2 separate regions of the Homo sapiens genome follow, and region 2 is linked to region 1. Evidence: fine-mapped expression QTL. A gene starts in region 1. The other region holds a variant in brackets. All regions are shown on one strand. Distances are between the middles of the regions.

Region 1 (8,326 bases):
CCTCGGCCTCCCAAAGTGCTGGGATTATAGGTGTGAGCCCCCGGGCCCAGCCAATAAAAATGTTTTTTTAAAAGGATGCATATTTCCAAACATGAGACTATACCATCACATTTAATTTTTCCCAGAAACTATAAAAAGTAGAAGTGAAGAGAGGAAAGGGAGACACTTTTAGACCTTCAATGAGTCTGCAAGTACAGGAGAAAATAATTTATGCAGCAATTAGCTTTATTTTCAGGGCTCTTTTTCTTTTCTTTTTTTTTTGTTGAGACGGAGTCTCGCTCTTTTGCCCAGGCCGGAGTGCAGTGGCGCTATCTTGGCTCAGTGCAAGCTCTGCCTCCTGGGTTCATACCATTTTCCTGCCTCAGCCTCCCGAGTAGCTGGGACTACAGGCACCCGCCACCATGCCCAGCTAATTTTTTGTATTTTTAGTAGACACGGGGTTTCACCGTGTTAGCCAGGATGGTCTCGATCTCCTGACCTCATGATCCGCCCGCCTCTGCCTCCCAAAGTGCTGGGATTACACGCGTGAGCCACCGCGCCTGGCCAACAAAGTGATCATTTTACAAGAGTTATGGCATAGTCACAGGTAAGAACCTGGGTCACTGGGTCACTCCCTAACCAATTACGAATTACTATATGCCATGGACCTTCAGGATTACTTTCTTTTTTGTTTTGTTTTTGTTTTTTTTTTTGAGACAGAGTCTCGCTCTGTCACCCAGACCGGGGTGCAGTGGCGCGATCTCAGCTCACTGCAACCTCTGCCTCCCGGATTCAAGCAATTCTCCTGCCTCAGCCTCCCGAGTAGCTGGGATTACAGGCATGTGCCACCACGCCTGGCTAATTTTTTTGTATTTTTAGTAGAGACCGGGTTTCACCATATTGGCCAGGCTGGTCTCGAACTCCTGACCTTGTGATCCACCCACCTTGACCTCCCAAAGTCCTGGGATTACAGGCGTGAGCCACCGCGCCCAGCCCAGGATTACTTTCTTTCTTTCTTTTGAGACAGAGTTTTGCTCTTGTTGCCCAGGCTGGAGTGCAATGGCACAATCTCGGATCACTGCAACCTCCACCTCTCAGGTTCAAGCGATTCTCCTGCCTCAGCCTCCCAAGTAGCTGGGATTACAGGCATGCGGCACCATGCCTAAAATTTTGTATTTTTAGTAGAGATGGGGTTTCTCCACTTTGGTCAGGATGGTCTCGAACTCCCGACCTCAGGTGATCCGCCCGCCTCGGCCTCCCAAAGTGCTGGTATTACAGGCATGAGCCACCGTGCCTGGCCTCTATTTTTCTTTCTATAATCCATGTACATTTTCCTTTAATAATATAAGGCAACTAAACAGCACTTTATTTTCAGAGGCTTATCTAAAAGATACTTGACACAGCCCTTTGCAGCTGGGTCATTCTCTGAATTCTAAATGTCGTTTCCTGCACAAAGTGGTTATTTGATCTTGTAACTGGCATTTTCCCCGGAGATTAGGAAGTGGCACACCAAAGTGCAAAAAACTTTGGAATCAGAACTTTAATTTTTAATCTTTATTTTATTTATTTATTTATTTTTGTGACAGAGTCTCGCTCTGTTGCCCAGGCTAGAGTGCAATGGCAAGATCTCCACTCACTACAAACTCCACCTCCCGGGTTCAAGTGATTCTCCGCCTTCAGCCTCCTGGGTAGCTGGGATCACAGGCGCACACCACCACACTCGGCTAATTTTTGTATTTTGAGTAGAGATGGGGTTTCACCATGTTGGCCAGGCTGGTCTCTAACTCCTGACCTCAGGTGATCCTCCCGTCCATGCCTCCCAAAGTGCTGGGATTACAGGTATGAGTCACTGTGCCCGGCCTAATTTTTATATTTTTTTGTAGAGACGGGGTCTGGCTGTGTTTGACAGCCTCAAACTCCTGGCCTCAAGTGATCCTCTCAAAGTGTTGGGATTACAGACATGAGCCACAGTGCCTGGCCTATTGAAAGCTTTTCCATCATAATAGGTCCTTCCCCCCAATGCTTGCAGCAAGTCAATAGTAGGAGACCCCAGGTTGCAGCAGAGAAAGAGGTTTAATCATAGGGGCCACTGAAAACCAAGAGAGGAGATGGAAGGAACCACGAATCCACTTCCCCAGGGAGTTCGGGGCTTTTTAAGGGTTTTGGAGTGGGTTGAAGTGTGGAGGTCATTGGTTGGTTGAAGTGTGCAGGGTGAAGTAATGAAACAGGGAGTTGAAGAAACTCTATTCTCCTGTCGATTTGGTTCCTCTGCGGGGTCTTCACACTGGTTGGTATCAGCTGTTTTGCTGGAATTCAGGATCTGAAAAATATCTTAAGCTTTTTTTTTTTTTTTTTTTTTTTTGAGACAAGGTCTGTTGTCCAGGCTGGAGTGCAGTGGTGCCATCATAGCTCATTGCAGCCTCTAACGCCTGGGCTCAAAGGATCCTTCCACCTTAGCCTCCCAAGTAGCTGGGATTACAGGCACGCACCACCACACCCAGCTAATTAAAAAATTTTTTTTTTTGTAGAGACAGGGGTCTTGTCATGTTGCCCAGGCTGGTCATGAACTCCTGACTTCAAGTGATTTTCCTATCTCAGTCTCCTAAAGCGCATGGATTACAGGCATGAGCCACCATGCCGGGCGCTAAGCAATTCTTATTATTTATTTATTTATTTATTTATTTATTTTTTTCTGAGACGGAGTCTTGCTCTGTTGCCCAGGCTGGAGTGCAGTGGCGCGAACTCGGCTCACTGCAAGCTCCATCTCCCAGGTTCATGCTATTCTCTTGCCTCAGCCTCCTCAGTAGCTGGGACTACATGCGCCTGCCACCACGCCCGGCTAATTTTTTGTAGTTTTAGTAGAGACAAGGTTTCACCATGTTAGCCAGGCTGATCTCGAACTCCTGACCTCGTGATCCGCCCACCTCTGCCTCCCAAAATGCTGGGATTACAGGCGTGAGCCACCACCTCCGGCCTAAGCAATTCTTAAATAAAAATCTATGATTCCGCCAGGCATGGTGGCTCACACCTGTAATCCGTGCACTTTGGGAGGCCGAGGCGGGTGGATCACAAGTTCAGGAGTTCGAGACCAGCCTGGCCAACATGGTGCAATCCCTGTCTCTACTAAAAATACAAAAGTTAGGTGGGCATGGTGGCTTTTTTTTTTTTTTTTTTAGACGGGAGTCTCTGTCATCCATGCTGGAGTGCAGTGGCAGGATCTTGGCTCACTGCAACCTCTGCCTCCCAGGTTCAAGCGATTCTCCGGCCTCAGCCTCCCAATTGGCTGAGACTACAGGCGTGTGCCACCACGCCCGGCTAATTTTTTAGTATTAGTAGAGATGGGGGTTTCACCATCTTGGCCGGGCTGGTCTCGAACTCCTGACTTCGTGATCTGCCCTCCCTGGCGTCCCAAAGTGCTGGGATTACAGGCATGAGCCACTGTGCCCTGCCAAAAAGCCTATGATTCTAACATCAGAAATCCTTCCACCTCAGCCTCCCACGTAGCTGGGACTATAGACTCAGTACCACCACACCAAGCTAATTTTTGTATTTTTAATAGAGATAGCGTTTCCCTATATTGACCACCTGGGGCCATCCCTGGTTTTTTTTTTTTTTCCCTTCCTTCCTTCCTTTCCCTCTCTCTTTCCCTCCCTCCTTCCTTCCTTTCTTTCTTTCTTTCTTTTTTTTTTTTTTTTACAGAGTCTTGCTCTGTTACCCAGGTTGGAGTGCAGAGGCATGATCTTGGCTTACTACAACCTCCGCCTCCCGGATTCAAGCAATTATCCTACCTCAGCCTTCCAAGTAGCTGGGACTACAAGTGTGAGCCACCATGCCCTGCTAATTTTTTTATTTTTACTAAAGACGGGATTTCACCACATTAGCCAGGCTGGTCTCCAACTCCTGATTTAAAGTAATCTGCCTGCCTTGGCCTTCCGAAGTGCTGAGATTACAGGTGCGAGTCACCGTGCCTGGCCTATTCCTGTTTTCTTAACGCTCCTCTCTCCCACTGGGCCGTGACTGCCTCTAAGGCAGAGATGTGTTCATTTTTATTATTATTGTATGTCCAGGGCTGGGCACAAAGTGCAACACATAGTAGGGACATGAAAGGCTGGGCACAGTGGCTCATGGTTGTAATCCCAGCACTTTGGGAGGCAGAGGCGGGAGGATGGCTTGAGGCCAGGAGTTGGAGACCAGCCTAGGCAACAGAGGGACCCCATCTCTATGAAAAAAAAAAAAAAAAATTGACAGTTCAATGTCACCTCTGATAAGCCTTCCCTGACCACCCCTGTTACTCTGTAGCCCCATGTCCTGCTTTATTTTTCTCCAAAGCATTTATCATCGCTGGGTTTATATTTATTTCTCTTCGGGCTTTTCTCACTGGATCGTAAACTCCATGAGGACAGGGCTTTGTCGATTTCACTCAATACCGTTATTTTACAACATCCCTATTGCTGGGATCTCAGTATGCACTCCTTAAATATTTGCAGAATTTAAGTGCCACATAAGTGACCACGTGGGCAACGCCCTCGGGGCCTTAAGCCGCGCCATTTTTGGGGCTAGGATTGGTTGGACCCTCCGTCACGTGACATGCAGTCGCCGGATCGCCTTTGAGTCTCGTGAGGTACTTTTGGTCCCAGGCTCCGCGGACGAGGTACTGCGCAGGCGTGGGAGGGTCTGCGCATGCGCAGAAGCACTCCGGGCGTGCTGCCGGCGGCGGTAGGTGGCGCGCGGGTCCGGCGGGCGGTTGGCTTGAGCGGGACCGGAGCTGAGGCAGGAAGAGCCGGCGCCATGGTGGAGAAGGAGGAGGCTGGCGGCGGCATTAGCGAGGAGGAGGCGGCACAGTATGACCGGCAGATCCGCCTGTGGGGACTGGAGGCCCAGAAACGGTCAGGGCCGGCGCGGCTTGAGGCCGCTAGGGTCTGGAGGGGGCGTCTATTCTGAGGCGTTTGCGGCCCGGAAGGAGCGGGAAGGTGTGATTTGAAGGGAGGAGGCGGGAATTCTGTGCTCTGGGATCGTCTCTCTCTTGGGGGGACTGGAGGAGTTGATTGGGGATGTTTCTGGAAGGTCTGGGAAGTGGTTGGGAGGGCCGTTCCGAAGGATGGGAGCTCTGAAGGGGGCGTTGGGGAGTCCTGAGAGAGCGGGAGAATTCAAACTCAGGAAATCCGAGGCCCGAAAGCGGTGATTGTGGGGTTTGATCGCGGTTAGGGGATAAGAGGGGCTGGGGATACGTGGAAAGGGTGAGGTGAGGGACGCAGTTCATTCATTCGAGGGTATGGGACCTGGTTCCGTGCTGCACACAGGGGAGACTGGACTGGCCAACCGGACAGACGGGAGCTTACACTCTTGTGGGAGCTCACGGGCGGGCCAGTCTGAGAGAATGCGGGTTTTGAGGAGTTTTGGAGCAAGTTATCTCAAATGGGAATCTTGAGAGGCTCGGAGAGGCTGGAGGGGGACGGCCGTAGGCTCCCGAAAAGGTTGCTTGTGTTTGGTATGGGGCTGTGTCTTGATAGGACAGGAGACGTAGTTTGGGCATTGTGGAGTAGCTTAGGGAATTCTTTTTTTTTTTTTTTTTTTTTTTGAGATAGTCTCTCTCTGTCGCCCAGGCTGGAGGGCAGTGGCGCGATCTCGGCTCACTGCAACCTCTGCCTCCCGGATTCAAGCGATTCTCCTAACTCAGCCTCCCGAGTAGCTGGGATTATAGGGGCCCGCCAGCACGCCCGGCTAATTTTTGTATTTTTAGTAGACACGGGGTTTCGCCATATTGACGAGACTGGTCTCGATCTCCTTACCTCAAGTGATCCACCCGCCTCGGCCTCCTGAAGTGCTGGGATTACAGGAGTGAGCCACCGCGCCAGGACGTCTTTTGTTTTGTGCAGTTGGGTGACCTCGGTTCACTGCAGCCTCTGGCCTCCCGGGTTCAAGACTTCCTCTCACCTCAGTCTTCTGAGTAGCTGGGATTACAGGCTCGCGCCACCATGCCTGGCTAATTTTTGTATTTTTAGTAGACATGGGTTTTCACCATGTTGGCCAGGCTGGTCTCAAACTCCGGACCTCAAGTGATCTGCCCGCCACAGCCTCCCAAAGTGGTTGGATTACAGACGTGAGCCACTGTGCCCAGCTTGTTTTTTTTTTTTTTCTTTCTCTGTGGCCCAGTGGAGTGCAGTGGTGGGATCACAGCTCACTGTAGCCTCAACCTCCAAGGCTCAAGGGATATTCCCTCTTCAGCCTCCCAAGTAGCTGGGACTACAGGCGTGCCCCACCACATCATCCGACTAATTTTTGTTTTTTTTTTTTTTTGTAGGATGGGGTTTTGCCATGTTGCCCAGACTGGTCTTGAACTCCCAAGCTCAAGCGATCCTCGGCCTCAAGAGATCTCCCCCCATCTCAGACTCCTAAAATGCTGGGATTACAGGCATGAGCTACCATGCCTGGCCTCATTGATCAATATTTTTACTTAGCCTGGACGCAGTGACTCACACCTGTAATCCCAGCACTTTGGGAAGCTGAGTTGGGGGGAGGGGACCTCTTGAGCCCAGGAGTTTGAGACTAGCCTGGGTAATGTTGCCAAACCCAGTCTCTACAAAAAAATACAAAAATTAGCCAGGCATGGTGACATAAGTTTATAGTCCCAGCTTGTCAGGAGACTGAGGTGGGAGCATCACCTGAGCCCCTGGGAGGTGGAGGTTGCAGTGAGCCATGATCACACCACTACACCCCAGCCTGGGTGACAGAGTGAGGCCCCGTCTCAAAAAAAAAAAAAAAATCCACAAGCGTGTGTATATGTGTCAGTTATTAAAGGATGGTGAAGTGAGAGGGTTGTTTTGATAGGTTGGCCAGGGAAGGGCTCTGAAGAGGTAACATTGAGCCTCAGACTTATATGGGAAAGAGCCCTGTGGTCATCTGGGAGAACTTTCCTAGCTAAGAGAACAGCAAGTGCAAATTCCCAGAGGCCCAGGCATGATTGTCAAATTAGAGAAATAAGGTGGCAGGAACCAAATGATTTGAGGAGTAGCTTTTATTCTAAGTGTGTGGGAAAACCTGTTGGAGTGTTTTGAGTGTGGGAGTAACATGATCTGTTTTTTGTTTGTTTTTTGAGACGGAGTCTTGCTCTGTGGCCCAGGCTGGAGTGCAATGGCACGATCTCGGCTCACTGCCATTGCAGTGAATCCGCCTCCCAGGTTCAAGCGATTCTCCTGCCTCACCTTCCTGAGTAGCTGGGACTATCGGCATGTGCCACAACACCCGGCTAATCTTGAGTATTTTTAGTAGAGACGGGGTTTCACCATGTTAGACAGGATAGTCTCGATCTCCTGACCTCGTGATCCGCCTGCCTTGGGCTCCCAAAGTGCTGTGATTACAGGCGTGAGCCACTGCGGCCTGGCCTGGTTTGTGTTTTAAAATGATCGCTCCAGAATAGGTTAAAGTGGTCAGAAATGGAAGTAAAGATTCTGGCTGGACTGTTGCAGTAATCCAGTTGAGATAAAAATATTGGTGGCTTGAAACTCAAGAGAAGGGGTCAAATAAATATATTCTGGATATATTTTGAAGGTAGAAGAGGGAACAGAATTTGGGGCAGAAGTCCAGGATGACACCACTGTTTTTGGCTTGAGCACCTACCTGGAACGATGGAATTGCCATTTTGAAAGATATGGAGAGCTGTAGGTTTGGTGGGGTCGGGGAAGAGTCAGTTCTCTTTTAGGTTTCAGATTTGTTTTTTTTGTTTGTTTTTTTTTTTTTTGAGACGGAGTCTCACTCTGTCGCCCAGGCTGGAGTGCAGTGGCATGGTCTCGGCTCACTGCAACCTCTGCCTCCCAGGTTCAAGCAATTCTCCTGCCTCAGCCTCCCGAGTAGCTGGGATTACAGGCGCCCGCCACCATGCCCAGCTAATTTTTGTATTTTTAGTAGAGACGGAGTTTCACCGTGTTGGTCAGGCTGGTGTTGAACCCCTGACCTCGTGATCCACCTGCCTCGGCCTCCCAAAGTGCTGGGATTACAGGTGTGAGCCACCATGCCCGGCCTCAGATTTGTTTTTTTATACAACTAAGTAGAAATATGTGAGGGGTTGAGTTCAGAGGTAAAATTTGGGTGATGGTGGGTATTGTGTGAGTACAGAGTATAGAATTAATGGAGGGGTTGGGGAGGCAGACACGTCAGGAGAATTTAGTTTGAGGGGGTGGGAGCTTTCAGAAGGTTTTAGAGGGTGCAGTGGTGGGATGGGAATTACCTCAGGCTCATTTCAGATCTGTGGGGTCTTCTTTGATGGGGTGGGGGGATGTCATCATGAGGCATTAACATTGGTGGGAGGGTTGAAGGCACCTGGAATAGATTGGGAATTAAGTGATGAGAA
Region 2 (8,326 bases), 62 kb after region 1:
AGCCCACAGCTGAATTAATGGTAATGCAGGTAAATGAGCTACTGTGTGACACAGGTTACCACAGCAAGTGTATCGGCTTTTCTAGGGCGAGTGTGAGCTGGGTTTCTGGACTTTGCTTAAGAGCAGTGACAGACCTGGAAGATACTGCCCCAGGCACTCTTGGGTGCTTTACATGTATTGGTTCATTTAATCTTTAAACCCCACAAGTGCCCTTGGGATTCCCATTTTGCAGAGGAGGCTCAGGGTCCTTGTCACTTGCCCAAGGTCACAGTAAGTGGAAGAATAGGGAGTCTAGAGCTGTGCTCTTCGCTGCTGCCCTCCAGTTGGAAAGCTGTCCAGGCCAGGGACAGGCTTTGCAGAGAGAAGGTACAGAGGACGGGACAGGCAAATATTCAGAGACTATGAGGACTGAGGTGGTTCTGCCAACTGTGGAGGGCCTGGTCACTTGACAAGGCACCTCATTGCACCCCCCTGAGGCTCTCTCAAAGCCCCTTTTCGAGTTAGGACATTGTTATCTCCTGTGTAGTTTTTGTTGATTGCCCTCTGAAATGCTGTGAGAGGGTAGACCATCCATTCTGCCCTCGCCTGCCCAGCCCAGCACCTGGCACAGTCATTGCTCAGTGTATATTTATTGAATGAACAATTGACTGAATGTCAGGCCCAGGGCTTTGCCTTAGGAAACAGGCTGTTGGATAAGAGGTAGTACTACCATACTTTGCAATTTTTCTGGAAATTTATGTCACCTGGGAGTGGAGCAGATTACCAGGCTGTTTCCAGAGATAGCGACTCTCCATAAAGTGAGCCAACCTGGGGGCTGGGCGCAGTGGCTCACGCCTGTAACCCCAGCGCTTTGGGAGGCTGAGGCAGGCGGATCACGAGGTCAGGAATTTGAGACCAGCCTGACCAACATGGTGAAACCCCATCTCTACTAAAAAATATGTATATAAATGAGCCGGGCGTAGTGGTGCGTGCCTGTAATCCCAGCTACTCAGGAGGCTGAGGCAGTAGAATCGCTTGCACCTGGGAGGCGGAGGTTGCAGTGAGCAAAGATCGCGCCACTGCACTCCAGCCTGGGTGACAGAGCGAGACTCTGTCTTAAAACGAACAAACAAAAAAAACAAAAGTGAGCCAACCCTGGGGAGGAGTCTACGTTCAGCTGCAGGGAGCCAGGGAATTGGGGCCGAGGTGTCTGGCACAGAAAAGCTTTGGGCCTGTCTCAGGTAAATGAAGTTTTGATATAGATTCAACTCCCCTGCCCCCCACAATTGAACTGTTTTTGGGGGCCAGCAATTAGGGGCTAATTTGTGACAGTGACTTTATTTTCTTCCTACTAAAGTACTGGTTTATTCGGTGGCCTTGGTGATTAGATTTAGGCATAATAGTTAAATGTAATAGAAGTTTATGTAACAAACAGTGATTAATAATGTTGCTGTCCAGATTCCCGTTATAGCGCTAACCTGATGTTATGAACTGAGATTAAATTTGAATTTGAGTGCTTACATTATTTTGTAAAGGTGGTTGTATATTCACATATCCACAGTTTTTTCTATAAATAACGTGAAACCGTGCTTGGTTTCTCTTTTCCAAAGTTTGCCTTTTCCATTACATGGGCAAGTCCTGAACCTAAGCCGAGACACTAGTCCATCATCTCCAGCAATGAATGTCATCCCCCCAGACTTCAGCATCCTGAGTTAATTAAAAGGTGCAGATGAAGTTAATCAAGTTTGGAACTCTAATTTTGTGCAGTGTTTTGATACGATTTGATGAGTCATCTTTTGGTAGAGCACCTCTCTATCCCTGACAGTGTTTGATCTTAACGGAACAGTTTTATAATGTGTAAACTGGTGGGAGGTGCTCTTCAGAAATGCAGTCAACAGTGGTATGTGTGCGTGTTTGGCTCTTGGGGCGGGGCGGAAAGCAGAACAAAGGAGAATTTAATAAGCGAGAACTTGTCAGGGGCTAGGGTCAGTTCTGAGGCTGCTGCCTGTCAAGAACATGGCTTTCTTCCTGCCCCCCTCCACTGCTGCTAACTGGAGTCTGACCTTCGAGAAAGAGTGAAAAAAGACAGCTTCTGTTTGTTTTGCTGCAAGTAAGTGGCTGGACTGATTGGCCCCCTTCCCAGAGGCCCTGCAAGGACTTCAGATGTGGTCAGCGAGGTATGTGGATGGTGCCAGCCTGCCGGCCCTCGTCCAGCCAAACTGCACCAGGAACAGGCAAGGGTCCCAGAGAAACAGCGGGGTCAGCTGCTGCCGCCTTTGCTCCTGCTCTTAATGCTGTCCTATTTCTTCCTAAGAGGAAGCTGGTTTACTCTCTCAAGATTGATGGGCAAAGTTTTATATGACCACGGTCTCCACTTCTCACCCACTGAACTTACAGCTTGAAATTAACAGAGGCGAGGCCCATCTGGAAAAATGCATTTGACAAAAACTTGATCAAATGGGGGATCCCCTGAGGTGGGTGGCAAAGAACCAGACCACTTGGAATCCTAGGTGCTGTGTCCCTGTATGGACCTGCTGTTTCTTTTGGATTCCATTAGGGTTAAGAAGCACAAATTCTGAAGCTAGATTTGAGTTTACATTTCTGCTCCAGTACTTGGGAGTTACAGTGACCAAGTCATTTAATGTTTCTGAACTTCAGTTTCCTGATCTGTAAAGTAGGATGGGTAGGTTGGGCGTAGTGGGTCATGCCTATAATCCCAGCACTTTGGGAGGCTGAGGCAGGAGGATCACTTAAGGTCAGAAGTTCGAGACCAGCCTGGCCAACATAGTGAAGCCCCGTCACTAGTAAAAATACAAAAGTTATTTGGGCGTGGTTGTGGGCGTCTCCAGCCTGGGTGACAGAGTGAGACTCCATCTCAAAAAAAAAGAAGAAAAACAAAAACAAGTAAATAAATGAATAAAAATAAAGGAATCCAGCCATCTGTTAGTATAGCCAAAGCAGAGGATATTGCATCAAATGTTAAACGCTAGTCCTGTCAGTCACTCCTGAGAGAACAGGGCAACAAGACCCAGAAAGGGTATCAACACTGCCTGAGCAGATGGAGGCAAAGCTGTGCATGGGCTGCTTATAGGGCACAGTCTGAGGCCTTGCAGCAGTCACGTGGAAACTGAGGCTGCCTGCTTTCCAGGTGCAAGGTGATGGACAGTGGCAGGAACCCTGTGCTAGATGACTCTTGTGCGATCTTATTTCTTTGTTACTGGGACACAAGCACCAACTGTCACAAGGGACCAACAAGAGGAGGTGATTTTTTTTTTCAGCTGTTACCACAAAGCTTTTCATCTTTTGGTTTGAAAACATAGCTGTGGGAATAGGCCGGGCGCGGTGGCTCACACCTGTAATCCCAGCACTTTGGGAGGCCAAGGCGGGCCGATCACAAGGTCAGGAGATCGAGACCATCCTGGCTAACACGGTGAAACCCCGTCTATACTAAAAATACAAAAATTAGCCGGGCGTGGTGATGGCCGCCTGTAGTCCCAGCTACTCGGGAGGCTGAGGCAGGAGAATGGCGTGAACCCGGGAGGCGGAGCTTGCAGTGAGCCGAGATCGCGCCACCGCACTCCAGCCTGGGCAACAGAGCGAGACTCTGTCTCAAAAAAAAAAAAAGAAAAAAGAGAGAGAAAGAAAATATAGCTTTGGGAGCACCAAAGCCCAAAGCGTTATAGTGCCTACTATGTGTCAGGCACTATACTAAACATTTCACATGGCTTAGCACTCATGTGATCTTCACGATAACCTGGTGAGCGGGTAATTATTATCACCCTTCCTACTGGTTTGTTGTTGTTGTTGTTGTCGTCGTTGTTGTTTTGAGACAGAGTCTCGCTCTGTCACCCAGGCTAGATTGCAGTGGCACGATACCGGCTCACTGCAACCTCTGCCTCCTGGGTTTGAGCGACTCCTGCCTCAGGCTCCCGAGTAGCTGGGATTAAAAGCGTCCGCCACCATGCCCAGCTAATTTTTGTATTTTTAATAGAGATGGGGTTTTATCATCTTGGCCAGGCTGGTCTTGAACCCCTGACCTCGTGATCCACCCGCCTTGGCCTCCCAAAGTGCTGGGATTACAGGCATCAGCCACCATGCCCGGCTACTTAATTTATTTTTTGAGACAGCCTCTCTCTGTAGCCCAGACTGGAGTGCAGCGGTGTGATTTCGGCTCACCGCAACCTCTGAATCCTGGGTTCAAGCAATTCTACTGCCTCAGCCTCCCAAGTACTTGATTATAGGCACCCACCACACTTTCGGCTAATTTTCCTATTTTTAGTAGAGATGGGGTTTCACCATGTTGGCCAGGCTGGTCTCAAACTCCTGACCTCAAGTGATCTGCCCACCTTAGCCTCCCAAAGTGCTGGGGTTACAGGTGTGAGCCACTGCACCTGGCCTCCTTTATTTTATGGGACATTTTTTGAAAAGAGGCTTGGTCCAAACAGGCAGTACTTGCCACTTCTGCAGTCATTTCTCTACCCTGCCCCAAAATGGTTACTCAGTTGCATTTATTTACTACAATCGGAATACCAGCAGGACATCTACAAAAGTAGAAGTATTGGGTGGTAGCAGATCAGTGCTCTCTGGCATCCAGATCGTCTAGATGGTCACAGCCTTTTTTTTTTTTTTTTTGGAGACAGAGTCTTGCTCTGTCGCCCAGGCTGGAGTGCAGTGGCACAATCTCGGCTCACTGCAACCTCCACCTCCCGGGTTCAAGAGATTCTCCTGCCTCAGCCTCCCGAGTAGCTGAGATTACAGGCACCCACCACCATGCACGGCTAATTTTTTTGGTATTTTTAGTAGAGATGGGGTTTCGCTGTGTTGGCCAGGCTGGTCTTGAACTCCTGACCTCAGGTGATCCACCTGCCTCAGCCTCTGAAAGTGCTGGGATTACAGGCATGAGCCACCACACCTGGCCAATTGTTA[C/T]AGCTTTGAGTTGACTGCCAAGTGTTGAGGTAGCATTGAGGGTTGCAGAAGCTGTGTTCTTGAAAAAGAGAAGAGAGTAACATTCTCAGAAAGCAAACAGTATTCAGAAGAGTCAATGGGTGTTCTGGAGCTTTTTTCTTTTCTTTCCTTTTTTTTTTTAAAGAAATTACCAGCTGGGTGCTGTGGCTCACGCCTGTAATTCCAGCACTTTGGGGGGCCAAGGTGGGAGGATCACCTGAGGTCAGGAACTTGAGACCAGGAATTTTTCTATTTTTAGTGAAACCCCATCTCTACTAAAAATACAAAAAATTAGCTGGGTGTGGCTGCAGGCACCTGTAATCCCCAGTTACTTGGCAGGTTGAGGCAGGAGAATGGCTTGAACCCGGGAGGTGGAGGTTGCATTGAGCCGAGATCACGCCATTGCACTCCAGCCTGGGCAACAGAGCAAGATTGTCTCAAAAAAAAAAAAAAAGAAAGAAAAGAAAAAGAAAAAGAAATTACCTCTTCTCTGATATGCAGAGCCCCGTCTATACTGGACAGGTGGAAGTTACCAGAGAAATACAGGCCAGGGGCCTTTGTCTGACATTGGCACTGAGAAAAGCATAGCCCAGAAGCAGGGTGTGTCTTTTTTTTTTACCTGGGCATCTGTGGTTTGAGATCTTCTTGGAACACTTTATAACCCATTTCTGAACGTCTCCCAGGCTTCAGTGGAGCCACCTGTTGTAGCTTCTAAAACTGTGTCCTCCTCAGTTGTTCTCCCACCCATTGCCTTCACAGATGCAGAGACCAAGATTCACTCACTCGCCATTGGACCTTTAGCACCCAGGTCTGTCTGGCACAAAGTAAGTGCCAGGCTGGTGGAGTGAATGAATTCTACTTAGAGAATGGCCCTCAACACAGGCTGCTCATTACCAAAACTATTTGGTCTTTAAAAAGTGTGACTCTGATGCTTCAGTCTGGGGTGGGTACCAAATACTTGTATTTTTTAAAGAGCCTCACAGCAACTTGAATTTACCTTAATTTTTATGTAGGAACCCTTGTCCTGGTAGAGAGTATAATTTGCTGAATAAGTCTACTTTTTCAATCAACATATACGGAAGAGATATCAATGAAAGAACTGACAAACTGTAAAGCCCCCTCTCCAGGTGTAAAGCACTCAGGGCTTGGGCCTAGAAGCTGATCCATGTCTCTGTGTCTGTTCTGAAATAGCCTGTGTGATGTGGGAGAAAGAGTATTGTCCTTAGAGACAAGGCTCGAGACTGGCTGTGCCCTTTCCTTGGGCAGTATGTAGGGAACAAGAATGCCTGCCCGCCCGCAGGCAGGTTACCTGTGGACAAGGTGTAGTGGGCAGTTAGAAGGTGTTGGTATGTTAATCAGTCTTTTTTTTTTTTTTTTTTTTGAGATGGAGTTACGCTCTATCGCACAGGCAAAGTGCAGTGGCGCGATCTCAGCTCACTGCAACCTCCCAGGTTCAAGTGATTCTTCTGCTTCAGCCTCCCAAGTACCTGGGACTACAGGCGTGCGCCACCACGCCTGGCTAATTTATGTATTTTTTTAGTAGAGACGGGGTTTCACCATGTTGGCCAGGCTGGTCTCTAACTTCTGACCTCGTGATCTGCCTGCCTCGGCCTCCCAAAGTGCTGGGATTACAGACGTTACAGACGTGAGCCACCACACCTGGCCAGTCTTTTTTTTTTTTTTTCTGAGATGAAGTCTCACTCTGTTGCCCAGGCTGGAGTTCAGTGGCACGATCTCGGCTCACTGCAACCTCTGCCTCCCGGGTTCAAGCGATTCTCCTGCCTCAGCCTCCTGACTAAGTGGGACTACAGGTGCCTGCCACCACGCCTGGCTAATTTTTGTATTTTTAGTAGAGACCGGGTTTCACCATGTTGGCCAGGTTGGTCTCGAACTCCTGACCTCAGATGATCCACCCGCCTTGGCCTCCCAAAATGCTTGGATTACAGGCGTGAGCCACTGCACCCAGCCTAATTAGTCTTTTGCTCCTATTTGTCTTTATTTGGGATAAAAGTTATAGCCTTGTTGGGGTCTTCTTACACAGTAGTTCTGACTCACAGCCATCATCTGAACCTTTCCTCTGGTTCACAACCAAAATTAAACATCCATTTATGGGGATTGAGATAGTTTTCATAGTAAAGGAAGTTTTGTTTGTAATGACCTTCCTGTTTGATGGGTCTAAGTATATGGCTGGCCCTTCTGGCTAAAGCAGGCTTTAAACTGGTCCTGCCTAGAATGTGTACCTCCCACTCCTTATCATCTCTCTTCTAGGTCCCTTCCCCTTTCCCTTTCCCTTCCCCTTCCCCTTCGCTTCTTCCTTCCCTTTGTTCCTTTTCCTTTCCTTTTTTTCTTCTTTTTTTTTTTTTTTTTTTGACAGGGTCTCACTCTGTCACCCAGGCTGGAGTGCAGTGATGAGATCTCTGCTCATGTAGCCTTGACCTTCTGGGCTCAAGTGATCTTCTGCCTTGGCCTCCTTAGTAGCTGGGACTACAGGCACCACCATACTTGGCTAAATTTTTTTTTTTTTTTTGGTAGCAGTGAGGTCTCACTATGTTGCCCAGGATTATCTCAAACTCCTGGGCTCAAGCGATCCTCACGCCTTGGCCCCCCAAAGTGTTGGGATTGCAGATGTGTGCCATCACACTCTGCCTCTTCCGGGTCTTTTTTTTTTTTTTTTTCCCAGACGGAGTCTCGCTCTGTTGCCCAGGCTGGAGTGCAGTGGCACGATCTTGGCTCACTGCAACCTCTGCCTCCTGGGTTCAAGCGATTCTCCTGCCTCAGCCTTCCGAGTAGCTGGGATTATAGGTGCCTGGCTAATTTTTTTTATATTTTTAGTAGAGACGGGGTTTCACCATGTTGGTCAGGCTGGTCTCAAACTCCTGACCTCGTGATCCTCCCACCTCGGCCTCCCAAAGTGCTGGGATTACAGGCGTGAGCCACCGCGCCTGGCTTTTTTTTTTTTTTTTTTTTTTTTTTTTTTTTTTAATTTTACTTTTTTGAGACGGAGTCTCACTCTGTCACCCAGGCTAGATTGCAGTGGCACAATCTTGGTTCACTGCAACTTCCGCCTGCTGGATTCAAGTGATTCTCCTGCTTCAGTCTCCCAAGTAGCTGGGACTACAGGCACGTGTCACCACACCTGGCTAATTTTTGTATTTTTAGTAGAGACAGGGTTTCACTATGTTGGCCAGGCTGGTCTCGAACTCCTGACCTTGTGATCCACCTGCCTCGGCCTCCCAAAGTGCTGGGGTTACAGCTGTGAGCCACCGCACCCGGCTCTTCCAGGTCTTAATAGAGCCTTTTTCCTCTACTGAAAGCTTCCACTGCTTTCTGCCCCCTTCAAACTCATATATACTTCATTGAATTGTTTCCTCGGGGAAGCCTTCCTGATACCACCCTACAGAGG

Evidence for each region. PIP is the estimated chance that this variant, and not a neighbour inherited with it, causes the effect. A credible set is the group of variants that fine-mapping cannot tell apart.
Region 2: its variant is the best candidate, but not a certain one, in a credible set for the expression of SAE1 in whole blood (INTERVAL, PIP 0.50).

The regions. Positions count from the first base shown.
Region 1 is chr19:47,126,164-47,134,489 of GRCh38, forward strand. SAE1 (SUMO1 activating enzyme subunit 1) reads left to right here and starts at 4,672. Exons shown (of 9, transcript NM_005500.3): 1 at 4,672-4,865. The coding sequence starts at 4,768. RefSeq lists enhancers at 4,446-5,060, 4,753-4,992.
Region 2 is chr19:47,188,464-47,196,789 of GRCh38, forward strand. The region is part of intron 6 of SAE1 (SUMO1 activating enzyme subunit 1); the gene reads left to right. Among named protein-coding and RNA genes, the nearest start is that of MIR3190, 34 kb to the right of the region's middle. RefSeq lists an enhancer at 627-1,393. The variant C/T (reference allele first, on the strand shown) is at 4,906.